Linked DNA regions of Homo sapiens. The protein of the gene in region 1 interacts with the protein of each later gene in a biochemical or structural test. Each region holds a gene or a part of one and is shown on either strand. Other genes may lie near its edges. The genes, in order: BHLHE22 and OTUD3.

Evidence for each region.
Region 2: of the proteins of BHLHE22 (region 1) and OTUD3, one has a biochemical effect on the other in vitro, tested with the Homo sapiens proteins (one study listed by BioGRID).

What each region holds. Positions count from the first base shown.
Region 1 is NC_000008.11:64,575,507-64,583,364, forward strand, and holds the start of BHLHE22 (class E basic helix-loop-helix protein 22), read left to right. Parts: upstream 1-4,858; 5' UTR 4,859-5,284; coding exon 5,285-6,430; 3' UTR 6,431-7,858. Other genes in the region: uncharacterized protein LOC124900252, read right to left, coding at 1,813-2,170, 2,416-2,663. UniProt on the Homo sapiens protein: Inhibits DNA binding of TCF3/E47 homodimers and TCF3 (E47)/NEUROD1 heterodimers and acts as a strong repressor of Neurod1 and Myod-responsive genes, probably by heterodimerization with class a basic helix-loop-helix factors.
Region 2 is NC_000001.11:19,906,395-19,913,922, forward strand, and holds the end of OTUD3 (OTU domain-containing protein 3), read left to right. Parts: intron 1-37; coding exon 38-222; intron 223-1,175; coding exon 1,176-1,352; 3' UTR 1,353-6,551; downstream 6,552-7,528.

The DNA.
Region 1 (7,858 bases):
CGAGGCGGTATGAATTCCTCATAAACTCTTTTCACTAGTTTTGCTCTACCTGCACCCGCATGTCCTACATTGTTCTCTGAGGTTTCAGCAGTGATAATGCAGGCGCTAAGTTATTCGCTCACTGTACGGTCCCCCTGGCCTTCAAAGTCGCCAAAGTGGGGAAAGACCACGCAGGAGCCAGGTGAGACCCTCGCGGTGGGCTCGGGGACTTGTGTGTGCACCTCGCGCTGAGAAGGCTGCCTCCCGGGGCTCAGGGTTTGTCTTCAAGGTCTGTTCAAATTTAGGCTAACTCGTCCCCAAACAGTAGTGAGGACCAGTATGTTTTCTGTAAAATAGATACAGACAAGGAAAATCTTTTCGAAAGAACGCTATACGAACAAGTTTCAACTTTCCCACAGTCGAAATTTTTGGAATTGCCAAGCAACTTGGAAAGACTAGCAAGACGGGGGGCCCTTGGCTCACTGCCAGGAATGCGCCAGCTCGCGCTAGTCCCCCAGCGTCGTCACCCTCGCTGTCCTCCTCCTCATGAGCCCACACATGTGGACCCAGTCTCTCTGAAGTGAGCTTTGTAGGACTCGGCGGCGAAGGGGACGAGAAAATACAGATGACAAAACGACGCCGAAAGGCTTGACCTCTGGGGCTAATCTCTCTGCCTCCGAGTAGATCCCGCGCTCCCAAATCCGGCGGGGGCGCAGTATGGTGAACCCCACACCTAGCTCCCTCAGCTGCGTGGGTTTCAAGCTGACCCAGGCGCCACCAGGCAGCCCCGAGTGGGCGAGTCAAGTGCAACTTCAAGGTCAATGTGCCTCTGACTGGGGCCTGGAGAGCTGCCAAGAATGCTGGGCTTGGAGCGCTGGGGTCGCGCCCCGCTACTGCGCCTTGGACCCCGCAGTGGAGGGCGCTGAGACCGCACCCCCCTCCCCGGGCAGTTTTCAGGAGAGGGTCCAGCTGGGGTCTCCGCGGTGGGGTCCAGAAACGATATTCCGGGTTGGATTCTTCCTCGGTTGGGGAAGCACAGCTGGCGGAGAATTCCCACGGCTCTCAGTGGATTCGCTTTTCCAGAGCTGTTCTCAAGCAAAGTTGTCATTTTTGCCAAACTTTGTTTTTACTTTTTAGACTGTTCTGAAAGAGATAAATTGAAAAACACAGAGAGACAATTTTCCTTCTCAGAAGATACACATAGCTACCCAAATTCAGACTTGTAACTTTTCAAACTAGTGAAGTAATAAACTATTTATCAGTACTATAAAAATAACAAAGACGAACTTCTGGCTTTACTCTTTAGAGTAGATTATGTTCCATTCTGATTTTACTTGGGTTCCTATCTCAAATTTCAAGCAAATATCAAGATGATCATTAAGAAATTTAAATAGTACCTAGAAATTAGTTTGGTCTGCAGCTCAATGCACTAATTTCAATGCGGTGCTGTCTGCTGAATATTTTAAACTCCTTTCAAAGCAGTAGGTGTATTCCCTCCCGCAGTAACAAAACGATATTCATCTTTACACAAGGTGCTCTGGCGTTTATAATTTGGTATCCAACACCCGGCCGAGAATGTTCCCTTTCCTGATGCTTTGGCCAACCGGCCTCGATAAGCCAACCAGCCCAGAACCAGGGGCGCTGGGCTGGGTGTTCCTCGGGGACGGCGCCCACTGCCCGCTTGGTCCCTGGAGTGTCCCGAGCTGCCTCCCATACCCCTGCTGCGGACAGAGTGGGGGCAGTCCTCTGCCTCTGTTTCCCAACTGCTTTGGTAACTCAGTGACTCTCTGTGAAACTGCAGAGTCAGAGGACTTCCCTTCCGTAGTTTTCATTCTAAGCGGTCATCTGTGAGTCAGAAGATTTCGCCGTGGCCTGATTTCCCACCCTTTCTGCCCGCGCAAGCCGAAAGCGCTCATGTTGGCTTTTCCTTTGCCACTTTTCCAACTTGCCAGTTCCATCAGGAGCCCGGATCCTTGCCCAGCTTCTTGGCGGAGCCAAGTTCGAGCGCACAGATTTCCCGAGCTCCAGCGGCCAGGGGGCACTGTGTGAGCGGCTGACGTCACCCCTCCGCCCGGCCGAAACCAGGCGGCGGGATCCCACACAGTTGAGGAGAGGGAGCCGAGGCCGTGACTTAGGGCTGGCGACGATTAAACCAAGTAACGAGACACCGGGCAGATGTGTTTTCATTGCCCTGTAAGATAAATGCAGTGTTAAGTGCCTGACAACTTCCCAGAAGCAATCAGCAAAAGTTTACGAGTGCATAAACCTCAAAGACCATTCCCTATCGGTTGTTATAAGGCCGGTATTTAGAGCTTCCATAAATTCTTCGGCCTTTTCCCAAAGCAAAGTTTTCAGCGACTATTAAGCAGCCACCTCCTCCGGGAAGACTAGGGGGATTTTCTTGAATTACAAAAGGAAGAGGCTTTTGGCTCCTACCGAGTAAAATGAAGTTGTGCAAAAGTTTGTTCCAGAAGCTTGGATGGCCAGGGAGAGGAGGGAGGTGGCAGGAGGTCGTGGAGATGGGGTCGGGAAGGGCCACGAGATGCGCTCAAGTGTTTGTTGCCTAAGGGCGAAAGACAAAGGTCCTGCGAAGATCCTGGGTCTAGCTGAGCTGGCAGGGCCTTTGCCGCCCTCAGTGTCGCCCCTGCTCTGCCATCCCGGCTCTGCCGCTCACAGCCCCGCATGGCACCCCCCACCAGTCCCTGACATGATCGATCCTTCGCCCTTCAAATGTCCACTTCGGGCCGGCAAGAATCCTGGCGCCCCGCAGAAGGTGGCAGCCCACAAAAAGGGCAAGCTGGCTGGAGAACTAAGTCAGACATTGTGAGATGTGTCCCCATCCTGCCCAGAGCCACGACCGGGCCAGCCTCCGCCCTCCCGAAAGTGACCCAAGGACTTTGATAAGTTAGTGTCATGCATACACGACCCACCTATGTTTAGAGAGAACCTTTGTTTATGATCCCAGTGAAAACAAAGCTGCTAATTGAAAAACAATAACACTAGCGTGTCTTTAGCTTTCTAAAGGGAGAGGTTAACAGCTGCGAACGCCGGGGGAGGGACGGTGGGAGGGGTGCGGTGAGCGAGGGGCTGCCCTGCATGTAAACAGCCTCGGGGTCCCAGACGAGACAAGTGGGACCGCTCAAGCCTGCAGAACCCCCGGTCTCGGTCCCAGGCACAAGAGCCTCCCGTAGCCCCGCCTGATCTTTCTCAGTCTTTAGGTTCCAGGACATCCAAAGGAGCGTAGGTAACCGACGTCTACGTAGTATTTCTGTCCCCGGAAGACTGGATCTCAGGGAATTATTATGGAAGATACTGCTGAGCCCCTTTCATCCTTTCCAGGTGAAAATACAGACATTTTTGTGTCGCCCTCACCCTTCCTTTATGAAATAAGGTGCCCAACTGTTCTGATATTACCATTCAAAAACAGGTTCTGTGGCGAACCTCATTTGTGAATCTATTACAGAGATTAATAGATTATTTCTCCTTTTTCAACTAATTCTCAGTGGGGAAATTTAACCATATGGTAAGGAGAGAATTAGAATTTCATCACATTAGAGCAAAATGTAATGAAAAGAGTCCAACACCTGGGGCCAACTCCGAAAGCCACAATTAAAAGGTTTTTAATGAAACCAGAGAAACCAAAAATTGCATAGTCTTCAGTACTTCTGCCATATAAGAAAGAGTTATTGGAAGGTGTTGGGAAATATTGTTTTTACTTATGTCATAAGGATGAAAACCAGCTGCTAAATACCATGTGTACCCAGAGACCGAACTCAGGAGTGAGATGACCGCGTGTACCAGTGCCCATCCGGAGAGGAGCACTTGTTTTTACATTCTCCCTTCCCGAACCCTCCAAGAACAACCGAGGCTGATCCAGATGTCCTTAAATGGCTTCCGGGTAAATAAATATGCATAAATGCCTCACTTCGTGTGGGAGCGGATTTGACTCCTGGTGAAGTTGACTCTTTTGAAGCAATCAGATTTTCATCTTAAGGAAAGTTTGAGAAACCGGTTTGTTTGTTTGTTTTCTTCCTGTTTAGGAAATTGTGTACTTCACAATTACCATCACTGTAACAGTTATTTGGAGACCACTGCAAAATCACTGCCACCCCACCTTAAAAAAAAATGGGCTGCATGATCACTTGCTCTTCATTTTGCTTTTTTCTTTCTTTTTTTCCAATCTGGGTAGGAAATGGGCAGTGGCGGGTGTGGAAACGAGGCAGAGTGTTCGGGGGGACGACTGCTTTGCTCTCTGACCAGCTGAAAACCTAGAGTGAATTTTGGGCAAGCCAGCTGGGACACCACCTTCTCTCGGAAAGTCCCATCCCCAAATCCAGACCAGTCATCCTACGAACAGGGGTGGAGTATAATTCTCGCCCGGAAGGGTAATTTAGCACAAGCTGAGACAGCAGTGGCGAGGGAAGGGCAGTGGGGGGTGGGGTGCGGTGGGTGGGGGCGTCTGCTTTCCACAGGACTCCCAGGCTTCGCCGCCGATCTACAATTTGCTGAAGGAGCAAAGAACATCCTCGGCTCTAAGTAGGGCTTTTAGTGTGCTCATTGATGAGTGAAAGTCGCCACACATGTCAAGCTAAAGGCAGTTGTTGGGTTACTAACAGGACCCAGCGCCTTGCAAACATATGCGCTAAGCTGTGTATACAGATGGCAGGCAGAATAATGGAGCAGGCGCCTTTTATAAAGCTCTAGCTGCTGCCTGTCTTCAGACCTGGGAAATGAAACTATTCAGACTTGCGGCCAGATAGCGCCTGCGATTGTTTGTTACCGTTTTAATCCTATTAATTAAAACGTTAACCTGATTGGGTAGAAAGCGCTGTCCCAACAGGCGAGTCTTCTTCATAATAACCTACTCAGAGATAATGATGTAAAAGACTCCCCCGTCTGTGGCGGCGGCTGTTTGATGGGTCCGGAAATCTCTTGAAGGTGAATCCAAGCAAGATAAACGGTGCGGAGAGGAGGCGCGGGGCTGGGCTCAGAGCGGCGGCGGCGGCGGCTCCACTCCCTCCGCGCCCACCCTCCCACCATGCGGGGCCGCGGCCCATGGTGAGCCCCAGCAGCCAGCACCATCGGCTGGAGACGAAGAAGAAGAAGAAGAGGAGGCGGCGAGCGCGGGGGAAGGCGAAAAAGAAAAAGAAAGAAGGGGAGAGGGCTCCCGGCAGCACCAGGACCGACGCGCGCACCAGCTCCGGAGCCCAGCTCGCGCGCGTCTGTGGGGCCGCCTGACTCCGGGGCCGAGGCGGCGGCGGCGGCAGCGGGCGCGGCGGCCCGGGCTGCGCGCCGGCGCGGGACCATGGAGCGCGGGATGCACCTCGGTGCAGCGGCCGCCGGCGAGGACGACCTCTTCCTGCACAAGAGCCTGAGCGCCTCCACCTCCAAGCGCTTGGAAGCGGCTTTCCGCTCCACGCCCCCGGGCATGGACCTGTCCCTGGCGCCGCCGCCTCGGGAACGCCCGGCGTCCTCCTCCTCGTCGCCCCTGGGCTGCTTCGAGCCGGCTGACCCCGAGGGGGCAGGGCTGCTGTTGCCGCCGCCTGGAGGAGGCGGCGGCGGCAGCGCGGGAAGTGGCGGCGGCGGCGGCGGCGGGGTGGGTGTCCCCGGGCTGCTAGTAGGTTCAGCCGGCGTTGGGGGCGACCCTAGCCTAAGCAGCCTGCCGGCCGGGGCCGCCCTTTGCCTCAAGTACGGCGAAAGCGCGAGCCGGGGCTCGGTGGCCGAGAGCAGCGGCGGCGAGCAGAGCCCCGACGACGACAGCGACGGTCGCTGCGAGCTCGTGCTGCGGGCCGGAGTAGCCGACCCGCGGGCCTCCCCGGGAGCGGGAGGTGGTGGCGCGAAGGCAGCCGAGGGCTGCTCCAATGCCCACCTCCACGGCGGCGCCAGCGTCCCCCCGGGGGGCCTGGGCGGCGGCGGCGGCGGGGGTAGCAGCAGCGGTAGCAGTGGCGGCGGTGGCGGTAGCGGTAGCGGCAGCGGCGGCAGCAGCAGCAGCAGCAGCAGCAGCAGCAAGAAATCCAAAGAGCAAAAGGCGCTGCGGCTTAACATCAATGCCCGAGAGCGCCGGCGGATGCACGACCTGAACGACGCGCTGGACGAGCTGCGCGCGGTGATCCCCTACGCGCACAGCCCCTCGGTGCGAAAGCTCTCCAAGATCGCCACGCTGCTGCTCGCCAAGAACTACATCCTCATGCAGGCGCAGGCCCTGGAGGAGATGCGGCGCCTAGTCGCCTACCTCAACCAGGGCCAGGCCATCTCGGCTGCCTCCCTGCCCAGCTCGGCGGCTGCAGCGGCAGCAGCTGCTGCCCTGCACCCGGCGCTCGGCGCCTACGAGCAGGCAGCCGGCTACCCGTTCAGCGCCGGACTGCCCCCGGCTGCCTCCTGCCCGGAGAAGTGCGCCCTGTTTAACAGCGTCTCCTCCAGCCTCTGCAAACAGTGCACGGAGAAGCCTTAAACACACCCCCGAAAAACACAAGACCGACCCAAAATCTAGAGGAAAGCGAAAAGCTGCTCCCCACCCCCTTTATTTTGGTCCTCTCGTAGTTGTGAAACACTTGCAGAGCAAACAAAGCAGAGGCAAGAACTGAGGAGAAGTATCAGAGACAAACGGGACTTTTAGCCTTGACATCCCCAGAATCTCGGTCTTTGGGGTGGGGAGGGAGGGAGGAGGGAGGTGGAGTTGGGATGGAGTATGGATGTCTTTTTTTTCTCAGAAAAGTGGCAACTTTGGTGGCAGCCTAGACCGCGAGGAAGTGGAATCTTCCTTAAAGGTGAAACATAAGTTGAGAAGTAGTGCTTGGTTATTAAGCCTGGAGAGTGTTTGAATGGCAAAATACTAATCCTACTAATAATTGTGGATTTGGCTAGTGCTGAGGGGGAGAGGAGGGGTTAGGGGTTGGGTAGCATGAGAGATGGAATATTCATTCAGACAAATCAGAAAGGGCACTTGAAAATAAATTTTGATTCTGAGCCAGGAGAAAAACTTGAAATGTTGACTTAAGTGAGGGGGAAATAAAACCCAGAGAGAGAGAGAGAGCGAGAGAGAGAGACATGTTACTATGAAAGACTTGTATTTTTTATTGTCTCTGAACTTTAATCCTGTGAAAATGCTCAAAGTTTTGGCGAGAGTGATATAAAAAAACTGACTGTGGCTGAAAGAATTGCATTTAAAAATATTTATGTGCACCTTGTTACTTTCTACTCTGCAATGATGTATTAACAATTCATGGTATTTATTTGTTATTCTTCAATGACCCTTCCACATCAACAGTATTTATCATGTGTTAAAGTCATGGGTCTTATGTGCAGATTTTTTTAATGCCTCTAAAATTGTTTTATAGATTACTTATGCTGTGTGCCAAGTGTTTAAAGGTTTATTTGCCAACAAGTATGAAGAGAAATATTGATGTATCTGAGCTGCTTAGGTTTATGAAAGGTCACCTGGATATTTTCAGTTGCATCATCCCTGTATTTAAATTGAGCTTTAATAAATTGCTTCAGTCCAAAAATTACAGGAAAGGTGTATTCTTAATTGATGAATGAATTGATCTCTTTTTTGAAAGGGGACTCCTTTACATTCCAAAAGGGAAAAACATCACAGCAATAGTTGCTATACGTAAGAACATGCTAAGCAAATATTTTTCCAGGCTGTGCTGTGCATTTTTAAAAGGTCTAATTTAATTGCTTTTAATATATATGTACATATATGTTATTTTAACTGTGGAGAATTATTTAAGTTAAAAGACTGGTTTGATTTGCCTATGGTGTGAAATCCTTTGTTATTTTTCTAAAAAAATAAAATTTAAAAAGAAAGAAAACTAAGGAAGAACAAGAAGCTATTTACCCAAAGTGAGCTTTCAGTTTTAGTTTTGCATGGCTGTTT
Region 2 (7,528 bases), on another chromosome or scaffold:
AGGTTCTCAGTTTTAATGAAATGTCTTTCTTTGGAAGATGCAGAAGAGAATCTTGAGCCCAGTGGTCGAGTGCTGAAGCAGTGTGGCCCTTTGTGGGAGGAGGGTGGCAGTGGTGCCAGAATCTTTGGAAATCAGGGCTTAAATGAAGGCAGGACCGAAAACAATAAGGCACAGGCCAGCCCTAGTGAAGAAAACAAAGCAAATAAAAACCAGCTCGCAAAGGTATGTAAGATGGGGTTGAATGGGCAGGTGGTGGGCAGGTGTAATTCTGTGGCAGTGGTGGTAGCTTGAGATTAATTTTATTTGTATTTTCCTTCTGATTTATAAAAGTAGTGTGGAAAATCTGGGGAATGCATAAAGCTACATCAAGAAGCAGAATGACCTCACTTATCCTGTTTGGTGTATGCCGTGACAGTTGGAAGGAAATACACCCTGAAATTGTCCTCAGTGTACAAATGAAAAGCCTCCTTTTCCCACCTAACATTACTGTACATGTGGGCTCTTCCCATGTTTATCCATGTTTTTTATAAATGCCATGATCTGCAATGAACACCTTTGTGTATAAATCTTTGGTTTTTGCATTATTTTCTTGAATAAAGTCCCAGAAGAGGAATGAACAGGTTAAAGGTCATGGATACATGAATCTTTTAAAGGCTTTTGGTAAATTGTCACGTGCTTCCCAGAAAGGTACATCTCCCTCCCTGCCCTTCACTCCCACAAGTAGTATGTGACATCTTCCATTTTACTGAATTTGGAATCATTTTAAAGATTTTCACCAAGAAGTTCTGAGCTCAAAATGCCACAGTGTAAAAAGCCACAGCAGAGGCAGAGATGCAATAAGCTTCTGAGGATTTTGTCAGAATTACCTGGGGCATTAAATTATGTGGGGAAAAATGTTCTCTGACACGTTTGTTTGTTACCAACTCTTGCTGGATGAGGGCTGGTTTCTTTAAGAGAAGAATGGAATTGATTTTGTTTGCTAGTTCAGCAAGGAAATATAAATTTAAATGCAAATTTGAGCAGCAGTGGACAGTAAATCATCTTTGGCGTCTTAGATTGGTTTTCCCTGTTCCTGCTGAAAAGCAATCTGTGCCCTTTGCCACCATCTCCCTTCTAGCAGGTGGCAGCTTGAGTCCCCCGTGCTTCCTACTCACCACCATGGCCTTCTCTCTCAGGTCACAAACAAACAGAGGCGAGAACAGCAGTGGATGGAGAAGAAGAAGCGGCAGGAGGAGAGGCACCGCCACAAAGCCCTGGAGAGCAGAGGTAGCCACAGGGACAATAACAGAAGCGAAGCAGAGGCGAACACGCAGGTCACCTTGGTGAAGACCTTCGCCGCTCTCAACATCTGACTCTTTGGCCTCTTGGGAGTTGTAAGAAGCGGCTGGAAAAGGATTGCTGTGTGCTAGACTTTCCAGTGAGGCCGTCCTTTTATAAAACGCAACACAACCAACGAAGCCCACACATGAGCTCACACACTGAGTTAGTTTCGTTCAAGCTGCCTCTTTTTTTGTTCGAAGTTTTATTAGTGATATGTTGGTGTTTTATGAAAATGCAGTGAGGCCATTCATATTCTGTAATACAAAATTAAAATACTGAGTTTTAGGGGCAGATAGTTAGGTCAGGAAAAACCTTTTAAGTGGTGGCTTTATTTGCCCTGAAAATCAGACTTCAGTGACCCTAGGATCTTTCCTTAACATTTGGGGTGAGTTTTGCTGTAATTGTTCATGAGTAGTTTAGAATAATTGTTAGAAATTCAGAATGACAAGTTTCCTTAGTTTCTCTTTCATTCTCAAACAGATATATAGGGTAGCTTATAAATGATCTCCAACTCAGGAATATGCTTTGATTTACTTCTAATCCAAGTTACTCAGAAAATAATTCAGGAATTGTTTTCCCAAAGTTACGTGAGGGTTGTGGCCTGCAGTCAGGATGGAAATTAACCGCATTTCTCTCCTTCCTGATTCTGATGTTATTTCAGATGGGATGCAGGTGCTGTTAGTTCATTTGCACTCAAGCCATATGATAAATGCAGCTGACTGTTAATTAGGCCTGGCCTTGTTGGGAAGTTGATAGTGGTGTTGGGTTTTTGGTATTTGTTTCCTGACAGTGGGGAGATGGCATGTTACTGCTTGTGATACAGTTCTGGAATTCTGATAGTGTGTAGAGCAGGGTCTATAGTTGTAACAGGAGACGAACTCCTGGGGTTTTGCCTAAGAGGAGTCTAAAGAATTATGTTTTTATAGGAGAAGCCTGGAAGAATAAGGTTTTTCATGTTCGCATTTTAAATAACGATTTTCTTCCCTTCTGTTGTAGACTTAGATGCCTTCAGAGAGATACGTGGTAACTTGACCTTATAGGTCGCTAAACTTAGTATTGTGGAAATTAAATCTTATAAAATGCTACATTTATTTCTTTTTATTTAAGCCCTGTTTGGCATTTCAAAGTTGGGAAAACTCCAGCATCTGCTGGAAGTTGTTGGACCAGCAGGGTTGGTTGACTTAGGTTGGACCAGCAGAGAAGAGAACATACTTTGGTTGAGGCCTTCGAATCACTCTTCAGTTCTGAAATAGACAGACTTGAGCAGTGGAGAGACGTCTTTCCTAAAACTGAGTTAGGTGGATGTGAACTTAAGAACTATAACGTATGAGGCAGCCCATCTTGGATCATCTTTGTCTTTTGGGACCTAATACTTGGGCAAATAATTGATGCTGAGTTGAAAGGTAAATTATTAGTTATCTTCCCCACCCCTCGCATTTCAGAATTATAAAAATTCGGAGGCAAATTGAAAACTAAAATGTTTGGTAGGCCCTGGAGTCGCCAGATTGTCTTTATCACCAGGCCTTTGGCTTTCTTCAGTTTCACTGGTATCTTTTGGTTTTGTTTTTGACTTTGGTGGCTTTTTGTAGTTGGAGCATCAGTAGTCTCTTGGAATTGCTCCTAGGACATTGTGGTTTAGGTTTCTTCCTGGGTACAGTACATTGTAAAATTTAGCAGATTAAAAAAAGTACACAGCATTTTTTTTCTGTGCACGTCGCAGAGTCCTGAGCTTGAGGCTGTGTTACTCTACTCATTCCAAACGAATGAAAGATCTCTGTTGCCTTACTCTAAGGAAGTGGGATCGAGTGCGTTAGGATCTATGGTTGTCTTGGTTTTCAACTCTGGGCAGATTCCTGACTGGCTGAGTGTTTCTGAATGAAGATGTTTTCCTGTCTGTTTTGTACTGCTTGAGTGCAGAGGCCAGATCCTCTCAGAAAGATAAGATTGTATGCCAGAAATTCAGATTAGCAGTCAGCTTAAGAGAGACTTATTGTCAGAAGTAGTAGAATTGCTTTATTTACTTGGTTAATGAAGGTGGCCTTGGGCCCTATTGGGTTTTAGAAGTTTTAGAAGCTGCTAAAAAGTTATTAAAGAATATTGGGAACATTTATTTTTTAAATTACCTAATTCTGGTAATAGGCTTCAGCATTTCTGGAGTATAATAATGGTGGTTTAAAAAACTAATCAAACGGCTTTAGTAATTTTACTACTGGTTTCACAGCTTTTCAGTTACAGTTGGTCTGTTTAGTGTGTTAATTATTAGGAATCGGGTACATGCATCCAACTTCAGTGATACCTTCTAGCTAATGGTTTCAATTTAGACTTCACTGCCTCAGTCTCACTGGGTACATGAGAAGGTTGGAATCAACATGCTTAGTTGCCTCAGTGGGCACTTGAAAATTCCTTCACTGGCAGCCCGAGTGGAGGCCCAGTATGTCTAGTCCTGGGATGACTGTTGTCAGCAGCTGTTACTCTAGTACAGGTGCTCCTGTGAACTCTTTATTAGGAACTGAATGTGTCTTAACCTCTGTGTTACATCTTGGCTGGCAGAGATTTATGTTACATGAGATTGTCTTGGTAGCTTGTAGTGTGGTCAGGAGAAAGGGGATGGAGCAGTGGTGCATAGCTGCTTACTGCTCTTATAAACGGTATATAAAGGTTTTACGGATTTTGAAAATATTTTTTTTTAGAGGTCAAAATAAATACCATTTTAGTGGCAACAGCTTTGAACTAGAGAGGTAGATGTATTAAAGCAGCATAGAACCATAACTTCTAGATAATGTAGTTGCCACTAGGAGATATTAGAAAGTTAGAATGTATGTGTGTATTTAGTTTTTCAATAATAATGAACATACACTTTCAGGAGCAAAGTATGGTTGAGAAATTGTGGCAGAAAGAATTTTAAATGTTAGTCGAAGTTGTCTGTAGTTTCTTTATTAAGCTCTGAAAACACTTCCAATGCCAGTTTGATTCTGAGGGCTTGGGAAGTGGGATCTCCCTTGTGGAGCAGCTGGAGCTGGCTGGGAGGGAGCCTCTCCATGGGTAATTTATTATGCCTGCCCTGCTTCCCCCAGGGAGCTGCTTCAGTGTGAAATGATGTGATTGTCGGGGGTGGGGTGGGAGGAGGGCCACCTTCAGTCGGGGAGTTGCTCACATATTACACAGGTAGCATCAGGTGGACTTCAGCGCTGAACTGTACTAGTAGTGAGTCCCTGTAGTCAATGTGCAATTTCTCTAATTCTGAGAAACTCTGTAGACTCTGCCTGGGTTTTACTGGGTCAGCATAGAATGCTATCAGTTTACCTCTGTGAAATATTCAGTCAGTTGAAGGAAACTTGGATTCCTAGTCAGAGGTGACTAAAAGTTACCCTGACCAAAAGGATCTCTGCGGGGGGAAGAGAATGGAGCTTCCTGATTTTAATGTGTTGCGTCAGTGGCCCTCTTCGACTCCCGTTTTGGGTAGATGCGTAGCTCTTCACTTTCTTACCTCAAGGCTCTGTCTAGCCATGTTAAATCTTTAGACTCAGTCTGATGCCGTTTTTCTGTTTTGCCATTCTCATTATTCACAGCTTTCAGAACAAGTGTTGCTAAAACTCCGGGGCCTTTGACAGTTGTTCTGAGGTGATTTAATAATGGACTTTTTATAAGTTATGTTTTCCTGGCTCTAAAGTAAATTTTTTTTTTTTTTTTTTTGAGACAGAGTCTTGCTTTGTTGCCCAGGCTGGAGTGTGGTGGGGCAATCTCGGCTCACTGCAACCTCCACCTCCCGGGTTCAAGCGATTCTCCTGCCTCAGCCTCCTGAGTAGCTGGGATTACAGGTGTGTGCCACCATGCTTGGCTAATTTTTGTATTTTTAGTAGAGACGGGGTTTCACCATGTTAGCCAGGCTGGTCTCAAACTCCTGACCTTGTGATCTGCCCGCCTCAGCCTCCCAAAGTGCTAGGATTACGGGTGTGAGCAACCCTGCCCGGCCAGTAAATTGTATTTTTTTAATGACATCATTGATTTGAAGATCTAGATGGCATAAATTACGACGTCTGCCATCGCATATTAGAAAGGGGACAGTCATATTTGTAACGTGGAGAGAACACGGAGCACCAGTCACCACGTGCACTTAGGATGCAGAGCTTACCGCACACCGCTGATGGGGACCTCCGGAAAGAGCGGTGCCTTGTGGTTGGCCTGGAAGTTCTCTCCCAAGGTGAAATTCCTTTAAAACCTCAGGCTCTGACCTATGTCTTTGAAGCAGCTGCTTTGTAGAGTCCCTCTCTTTACTGTCCTCGTTAGGACTGTTTTGTGGTTCCATGAAAATGTTTAGCATCCTTGCAGAATTACTTGAGAAGGGGCTGGTACCAGTGTAAAGAATCTATTTCTGTAAAACTACGAACTTTTGCATAGGGAATTTATTCTAAGCAGGTCATAGCCGTGATCCAGAGCTGCTGCTGCTCACTGCCAGTCCTTGCGGCTGGCGGCGATTGCCGGACAGACTCTCTGTGGCCTGGCTCTCATCCTTGGCGTGTCAGCCTGCGGCAGGCTGCCAGCCATCCATGACAATCATGTGAGCTCAGCCACAGACCTCAGCTGGCGGTTTGATCCCTGGCAGGTCCCTCGAGCAGTACTGGTAAGAGGCTTCACACATTTTCCCACTCTTACAGTTCATTTTTCATAGTAGGAAGGGCCCTTGGCCTCCCCAGTGCCTCTTCCAGAGCCTCCACCAGCACTAAGCTCAGAGGAAAGAAGAAAAGGGCCAGGAGTCAGACGTCACACCCGGGGGCTCCCCTTTCCCATGTAGAAGTGTTGGCATGCGTCAGTCTCCTTTACAGAGGGGTGGATGTATCCGTGGAGGAGGGGCCTTCTCTCTTTCTAATTGCACTATACTTGTTCTAGCTTCAGTCTGGAGATACTTAAGACCTCCATGGGGTCGTGATCCATAGACTTAGCAAGTCTTGCCTTATCTATGGAGCTCGATGGTGAGAATTGTGACCATTGTCTGATGTCCATAGTTCCTTCCCCCTAGATTGTTTCTTTCCACGGATTGTGTTCATCTGAACCATTTTATTTTTTATTTACCAAAGTACTGTACTTGGCTATTTGCAGTGTTTTCAAAACCAAATGTTTCTTTTTTTGTGTTTTTAATCTTCGATACTTGGTGCAATAGAAGCTGCAAAGATGTGCCACTTTATCTATGAAATGGAGTTTTGTATACCAATAAATTCTAGTTTAAAAACAAAGTTTTAAGTTGTTTTTATCAGTATCTGACCACCGTTTGAGTGAATGCAAGGAGGCTGAGTGTGCTGGGAAATGTCCTTTTTGGAGACCTTTGTGTGGAAGCTTTGCGTGTTTGCGTGTGCTGGATTGAGTATTCTAGGTGTATAATAGTACTTTGGGATCTGACTAAGCTTAGAACAGCTGATTTTTGCTTTAGTGCAGCTAAATGCAGCCACCAAACACAATGGCAGGGTCATTCTTAAGGACTACACACTTAAGATTTCTGCCTGATATCTGAGAGCATCTCTTGATAAGTTTGAAACTGTTTAAATATGTAGCAGTTGTCTGTCAGCGGCCACTTTGGGCTCCTCTAGAACTCTCAAGATTGTTTGACCCCATTCAAGGAGGAGGCTCCCTGCCAAGGCACAGACAGTACCATCTGGGGGCACAACTCACCTAGAAGGGTCCACAGGAAACCAGAGCGAAGGGAGTCCTTCATTGCGTCCAGCAGGGGCCCCATCCACACAAGGGCTCTGGCTCGGCAGACCTCACCATGTCATGATTTTGACCTTGAGACTCCCATTCTCCCATTCTTCATTTTGTATTCAACAAGCAGCCTTCTGAATTGGCTCCCTGTTGCCTTGACACAAAAAAGGACTAGATGGTTTTCTGGATGAAAGTCAAGAATATTCTAGCTTCTGCAAGCAGATTCTCCCACAATCTCTCAAGTGATCTTCTCTGTGTGATTCTTCTTCAGTCCACAACTGAGAGACCCATCATCTCTGGATAGACACACACTGTCTGGTTCCTGAGCCTGTGAGGCCCAGATTCCAGACCCCATTTAACCTGAGATTCTTCCAGGAAATCTGCTATGGTCCAAAGTGATGTCCCAATCCAGGTGCTGCCCGCACACTGGAAAACTTCCATGGCCTCCTTAATCCCATTCCAGGGATTCAGCTGGGGCCAGGTGGCTGCTGCTAGGGATTAGAGGGGCTTCCTG